Linked DNA regions of Homo sapiens. The protein of the gene in region 2 purifies or fractionates together with the protein of the main gene of each other region. This does not show direct contact. Each region holds a gene or a part of one and is shown on either strand. Other genes may lie near its edges.

Region 1 (3,754 bases), on a different chromosome or scaffold from region 2:
CAGGCTCCAATATCAGTGCTAACTCCTCTATTCTATAGTTATGAGACCCTGAACAAAGCCCTCTCTGAGCGGAGATCGCACCACTGCGCTCCAGCCTGGGCGACAGAGTGAGACTCCATCTCAAAACAAAACAAAACCAAAAACAGACAGGTTTAATTAGTTAGGTGTGGTGGCACGCGCCTGTAATGCCAGGTACTGGGGAAGCTGAGGCAGGAGAATCGCTTGAATCTGGGAGATGGAGGTTGCAGTGAGCAAAGATTGTGCCACGGGAATCCAGCCTGGACGACAGAGTGAGACGCTGTCTCAAAAACAAAAACAAAAAACCAAAAAACGGACAGGGTATAGGCAATTGTTATTCTTCATAATAACCCTGTCAAGACTTGACAGCTAAGCCCTTCAAGAGGCAAGTTCAAACCAAGACTATGAAAGAAAATTAATTAATTGTGCCCCCAGGTGGAATGCCAGTGAATAATGAATTTGGGTGAGTAGAGACTTGCAAGTGAAGAAAGAATTTTTGGTGTACAAGACACAATCTGAACAACAGCCAATCTCTACAGAGATTGCCAACAAACTACCACCTAGTTTTCAAGGCACAACAGTTTAACTTATCCCTTCATTACTTTGTGAAGTAAGGCAAGCACTTTTATTTCCACCTATGAGGAACTGGGGGTCAGAAGTTACCTGACTTGCCAAAAGTCACACTGTCAGTCCTTGAATGGCAGAGCCTCAGTTTCATAATTTCTAGTACAGCAATGATCACAGACTTATCCATATATTTATTTACCTGGCACTGTCTGTCCTCTGAGACCCTCCGGCTCTTGCCCTCCGTGAAGCAGATACCCTCCTTCTTGTTCTCATTGGCCCTACACTGTGGTTTGAAGATGAAGGTCTCAGGAATTCCAGCATGCCATGAAGTCTCTGCAGTCCGCTGATGAAGTTGGTCATTGAATGCAACGAAGATGCTGGGATGGTGTGATTACCATCAGATCCCTGCCTATGTTGTTCTGAAGTTCTTGGATTGATGTTCTCCACAGTGTCTTCTCCCAAGACCTCCACTTCTGTCAGGTCAACAGACAGTTGCGGAGCAGGCTGGAGCAGGGGTGGTGTCGCTTGGCTGCTGATCACCTCAGCAGGAGCTGGCTGGAGGATGGATGGTACCCCCTGGCTGCTGACCACATCAGCAGGAACAGGCTGGAGGAGGGCTGGTCCCCCTTGGCTGCTGGCCATGCCAGCAGGAGCTGGCTGTTGTTCGGCATGATTTAACTGCACCTGAACATCATATTCCATTGCTTCATGAGCCATCACTAGAGAAACAGTATTTGTAAAAAGTATTAATAAAATAGATAAAACATGCTATGTAGGTGACAGAATCATATTTAATCTTTCTGATTTTATGTTTAATATCATTCTTAGCAAGACTGAGAAGCTTCAAGAGAAGATTTTAACTACTTAAGTCAGAAGTGTTTGGTAATGGACTTTCCTCTCTATAACAAGCATTTATAACCAGTTTTCCGGTTTGCCCTTAGAAAACATGAAGTCCTGTGATCATAGTAGTATCTTCCAAAATAGAAAGATCTATAAACCAAGGAGATTAAACTACTGGGTCTAAAAGTAATCTCTCAGACACTTTGCAGTTCTCTCAAGCTGAATATGGACATTCACCAAAATCAAATGCATATAATGCAGTATCTAATTTTAGCAGGCAATATTAATCTTTCACAGCATCAACAGTTACAAGGGATAAATAGAGAAAGGACATTTTTTACACTTGCAAAATTAACTGTTACTAACTCAAAATGGAAACTTACCTAATGTTTCCAAAAAGGCTGAGCAAACTTTATCCTATCCCTTTCATTATTTTTGTTTTCCATCTCTAATTCCATCATGTTAGCGTATTCAACAAATATTTATTAAGCACCTATGTTCTTTTCATGTTTCCTATCTTTAATTCCATTGTATCAGTTTGAAAACTACCACCTAGTTTTTAAACTAAAAAAAAAAATTTTTTTTTGTTATATAGATGAAGGCTTCCTATGTTGCCCAAACTGGTCTTGAATGCCTGGCCTTACCTCCTCATGCATCAGGACAACAGGACTGAGCCACTGTGCCTCCCTACCACCTAGTTTTTAAAGTACATCAGTATAACTTATCCCCTTAATTACTTTGTGAAGTAAGGCACGTGCTTTTATTTTCATCTGACTTATGAGGAAATGGGGGTTCAACTAATAGTTATTAAGCACCTGTTATGCAGACAAGACACCCTAGAGGCAAAAACAGATAAGACCCCATGTATCAGAGTTTAGATTCTAGCAAGTAAGATGTCAATAAACAAATACATGAAAAAAATTATAGATTATGATGTTTGGGGTTGAGGAGACAAAGAGGACCAACTAAGACACAATTGTGAGGGAAGTACTCTTTTAAAGAGTGAAAATTGGGCTGAGGCATGAAGGATTAAAAGCAGCTGGCTATGCAAAGAGCCAAGAAGAGTCTCAGAAGGAAATCAGTGCATAGGTCCCTGATGAGCATGGGTTTCACTGATGAACAGGACACCATTATTAAAGGGCCTATGGGCCTTGGTAAGGAGTTTCTTCTATGTTAGGAATGCACTGTAGGGGTGCAAGAGCATAAGCTAGGTGACCAGTGTAGAGGCTATTGTGGGAGTCCAGACCAGAGGTCAGAGAGACCTAGGCAAGAGTGGTAGCAGTGGAGATGAAAACAAACAGACAGCTTTAAGAATCTTCAGAATGGTCATGCTTCTTTTTTTTTTTTTTTGAGATGGAGTCTCGCTCTGTTGCCCAGGCTGGAGTGCAGTGGCGCGATCTCGGCTCACTGCAAGCTCCGCCTCCCGGGTTCACGCCATTCTCCTGCCTCAGCCTCCCGAGTAGCTGGGATTACAGGTGCCTGCCACCACGCCTGGCTAATTTTTTGTATTTTTAGTACAGCCGGGGTTTCACTGTGTTAGCCAGGATGGTCTCGATCCCCTGACCTGGTGATCTGCCAGCCTCAGCCTCCCAAAGTGCTCGGATTATAGGCATGAGCCACCGCGCCCGGCCAATACTCATGTTTCTTAAAATCATCAAAGCAGATTAAACCACCTGAGGAACAGAATGACAGAAGAGGGCTGAAGACTAAAGTCAGAGACACTACTGTTAAAAGTACAACAGAGTAAAAGAAGCCAGTTAAGGAAGATTATAAAGTAGGAGGAAACATGGGAATGTGGTGTCTTGGAAAAACAATGTTTCAAGGAAGGAACAATTGAGTGTCAAGTGCTACTGGGGGGAAGAACGGCCGCTAGATTTGGCAACATGAGGATGACAGGTGACCTAAAAAAGCAGTTTCCCTGAAGTGGTGGGGTCAGAGGCCAGACTGGTGCAGGCTGAATAAATGGAAGGAATTCTAATAAACATAGTGGACGAAGTACATATATGTATCTTTCTCTCTCCACTCCAGTCATTCCTAAAACCCACGAACATGACCCCCACAACCTGAGACATTTTTTTAAGAAAGGATAAATTAACCAGGACGACACAAATGCAAACAGGGTATGATATGCAAACCAGTTTTTTAAGGCCATAAAGGAGAAACTGATGATTGATGACTGCTTAGCAGAGCCAAAAGATAAAACTCAAAGCCTGCAAAGGGCACAGTGGTTGGGGTGAGGTGTGTTATTGAGAAGCAAGCTGATTCCCACTAAAGGGACTGTAAAAACCAGGTACCACAAAAGGCAATATTGAAAGATGGCGCTAAAAGA
Region 2 (3,754 bases):
CAAGCTCCAAGAGGTTGTTGAAAGACAAATTATCAGGAGATCTAGAATTCTGTTAGTGTTACCACTGACTGGAAAAAATCAGTGGTAACTTTTCTTTACTGTTCTCTGATCCTTGCTCCCAGTTCTTAAAGCTGATTTACATGATGAAGCTAGTGGTTGGCCAGGAAATAGCTTATATTTGCAGAATCCTCTTCCTTCTGCATGTCATGGTGATGGTATCAGGAAACATGAGGACTCAGTAACTATAGGGTAACTCAGTACATTTTACTTTGGGGTCTTTGTCTATTTGTTTGCAAAAAAACTGCTGAATTATTTTCTTGAGATTTGGAATTTAATACACTTTAGGGGTTTTATAATAAATTAATGAAACTGAAATCACCTTGATACAAAACAATACTGACATTTTATATCATAAAGCAACTTTTCCACATGTTTGCTATTGTAAGAAATATGTTAACCATCTTGTAAAATGCCTAATTCCTAGGGCAAGAAAAATTCTTAGCCAGAGGTATTTAGAATGTCTATTTCATTACTTGAACATTTTCTCTTTTTTTGAAAACTGGAAAATTTGGGACATATTCCCCATTACTTGAGATAATACTTATTGAGTACTTAGTGTAGGTTAGCAACTGTTCTAAGAGTTTTATGTAAATTATAACTATTTAATTCTCATAAGTTTATATATGTTTAATCCTCCTTATAATCATGAGAGTGGTGTTAATTATCCTCCCTCCAAGTTTGCAAATAAAGAGGTTGATACATATAAAGATTATAACTTGCCTAGATGGATTTGCAGAAAGATTTATTACTAGCAATTTGTTATATTATTTTGCATCTCTTTTATTGTTTACATTTTCACGCTTTAGGACAACGTCGCCCATACTCTGTGTTTGATAAGAAAAGTCAATCTTTGAGTGGTAATTGAATGGGTAAGAAACGTTTCTGAAAGTTTTCACATCCCTAAAAACATTTTGAGAATGCTTATCTGAGGCCATCCCTGAATTTTTAGCCCCAGAGCCACCAATTTGGAATTTTCTGTGTATACTTAAGTTTACCTTAAGAAATGGTCACTTCCTTTGAAGTGGAAAATCTCTTAAGATCTCCTGCTTCTCATCCATAAATCCTTTCTCAGCAGAGACTCATGGATGGGCTAGAAGCTATATTCAGTCATCTTTAGAAGCACATGGGATATTGATCAAAGGGGTGGGGTGGTGGGAAGGTGAGGGGTGGTTGAGTGTACTCCTTGGGTGTCATGGCTGGGATCTCAGTGTCCCTTCTTTTCTGCTTATTTGTACTTATTGAGAAGTCTGTCTTCCATTTTCTCCTTCCCCATGAACAAGTGTGTGAATTATTTGGAGGCAAGTTGTCTTGTTTTTAAATTTTTACTGCCCTAACTTTGACTGTGGTGCTTCACACATGTGAATGCGCTTGGGTTGAAATTTTATTCGTTTTACCATTAGTAATTATTTGAATCAAAGAAAAATCCACATAATTATTCAGTTTAACTGGCCATTTAGTTTTATAGCATTTGAAATAGAAATTGTTTTTAGTTCTAGAGACTAATTTGGCATAATTTAAAAATCTTGGTAGTTTTGGAAACTTGAACCCAATGAATTCATAAATGTTAGTTAAATTTTGAATTATGTATCTCTAACTCTTCTTGGTACCTGAAATATCCTAGTTTCTTCCGTGAGGAAAATCTCAGAATAGCACGCCATGTTATGATGTTTTAAAACGAGTGAGAATTTTGGATGTTATGAGTTCTGGTAGCTGTTTGGTAACTTAGTTTTATATTAGAAAGGTTAAGTAGCATGCCCGAGGTCATACACTGATAAACATGAGGCCAATGATTAGATATGTCTGACTTCACATTCCACATATTTCCTTACACTGTTTTGCAGTGTAAATAGGTGGTTAAGAAGATACCAAAGTAGATCTCTGGTTCATCTTCTGAGAAGCAGAACTAGAATTCTCCTGGCTAGCAGTTATCCATCTAGTGCATATGTATCTAGAGCTGGCCAGGCCTTTAGTTTACAAAATAAATAGAAAGCCTTGTCCCCACTCTGGAGGAGCTTGCTGCCTTGTTAGAAGGTGAGATATGTTCGAATAGAACATTTGGGGAAACCATTTGAGACCTGGTATAATGAAGTGCTAAGATTGTGGGCAAGGTGGGGAGGAGGTAGGCCTTCCTGACTAGTTTAGGCTACAATAGTTGGGAAGACTGCAAGAAGCCAGCAGGCTTCAGTCATGCCCTAAAAGAGCGATTGGTTTAGAAAAAAAACAAAAGGGAACTACTAACATGTATTCTATTCTAGGCAGGTGTCAGGCAAAGTTGTATCTTATTTTGGTCTCACTAGATTCTTGCAAAGCTTATCTGCATATCCAGGTTTTATAAAAGGTTAAGAAACTGAAGCTCCTAGAAGTAAATGAGCCCTTAGTTATCAAATATTGTCTGCATTGTGCAACTTCTTTTTTAGCCCGTAGTCTTTGTTTTCATACTTTAGTTTTAGAGAATTACTCCAAATTCATCATGATTGAAGACAATAAGGAGAACAAAGACCATTCCTTAGAAAGGGGAAGAGCAAGTCTCATTTTTTCCTTAAAGAATGAAGTTGGAGGACTTATAAAAGCCCTGAAAATCTTTCAGGTAAGCATTTTCTGTATTTTTGCACAGAATTCTTCTAGAAATGAATCTCTAAAACTATATTTAAAATATAGGGCAACATAGCAAGACCCTATCTCTTAAAAAAAAACAAATTTAGCTGGGTGTGGTGGTGGACTCCTGTAGTTCCAGCTACCTGGGAGGCTGGGGTGGGAGGATTGCTTCAGTCCGGGAGTCCAGGGTTACAGTGAGTGAGCTATGATCACACCACTGCACTCTAGCCTAGGTATCAGAGTGAGATTTTCTCTCTATATATATATCTATATTTATATATAGATAAAATATATAAATATATAATTTTTATATATTATATATATAAATTATTGTAAACTCTTCAGAGATGGAGTACAAACATTTGTTAAGAACTTACATTTCTAAAATAGTGCTGAATTCTAACAAGGGATACAAACAATTTACAGAAGAGGAGATACAAATAGCTACTTCGAGAAATGGGGGAGAAAAGATTCACTTTATAGATTTTAGAGAAGCAAATTTTAATTTTATTTTAATAAAATATTAAAATTTTATCAATATATAATCATATATTATTAATTATATACTTGAGATTTAATGATATAGTCATAGTATATTTAATGATATTATTTTCATGTAGCAAAGATTCTATAATGACAGTGTCTCCTATTGTCAGAACTTCATTGCATTGGAGGTACATTACCCTCCAATGCACCTTTGGCACAAGGATAAATTTGTGTACCATGTAGGGAAACTATCTGGTAATATGTATTATGAGCCTTAAAATGTTCATATTTTTGACCCATAATTCTAATTTCATAAATCTGTCTTAAAAATATGGATCAGTCAGGCAGAACACGAATATTTATTGAGTCCTTACTATGTGTCAGGTACCACACCAGACACTAAGGATGTGGAGCTGGACAAAGTAAACACAGTGCCTGTCCTCACAGAGTATGTAATCTAGTGGGGAAGGCAACATTAAACAAACAACTGCAGTAAGTGAATAATCACTATGTGTAAAGTGACATGAAACAGAAATACCAGATATTCTGACAGCATTGAACTTGGGGGACCTAACTGAGTTTAAGGGCTCAGGGACACACAAAGATTTATTGT

The links. The genes of interacting proteins can lie anywhere in the genome.
Region 1: the proteins of TPH1 (region 2) and RFWD3 purify together in Homo sapiens (affinity purification with mass spectrometry; 2 studies listed by BioGRID and IntAct, with this or other methods). This does not show direct contact.

The regions. Positions count from the first base shown.
Region 1 is NC_000016.10:74,660,148-74,663,901, forward strand, and holds part of RFWD3 (E3 ubiquitin-protein ligase RFWD3), read right to left. Parts: exon of another isoform or gene 1,809-3,754; intron 1,307-1,808; exon of another isoform or gene 1,305-1,306; 5' UTR 1,303-1,304; coding exon 785-1,302; intron 1-784. UniProt on the Homo sapiens protein: E3 ubiquitin-protein ligase required for the repair of DNA interstrand cross-links (ICL) in response to DNA damage. Plays a key role in RPA-mediated DNA damage signaling and repair.
Region 2 is NC_000011.10:18,039,539-18,043,292, reverse strand, and holds part of TPH1 (tryptophan 5-hydroxylase 1), read left to right. Parts: intron 1-2,504; 5' UTR 2,505-2,530; coding exon 2,531-2,647; intron 2,648-3,754. UniProt on the Homo sapiens protein: Oxidizes L-tryptophan to 5-hydroxy-l-tryptophan in the rate-determining step of serotonin biosynthesis.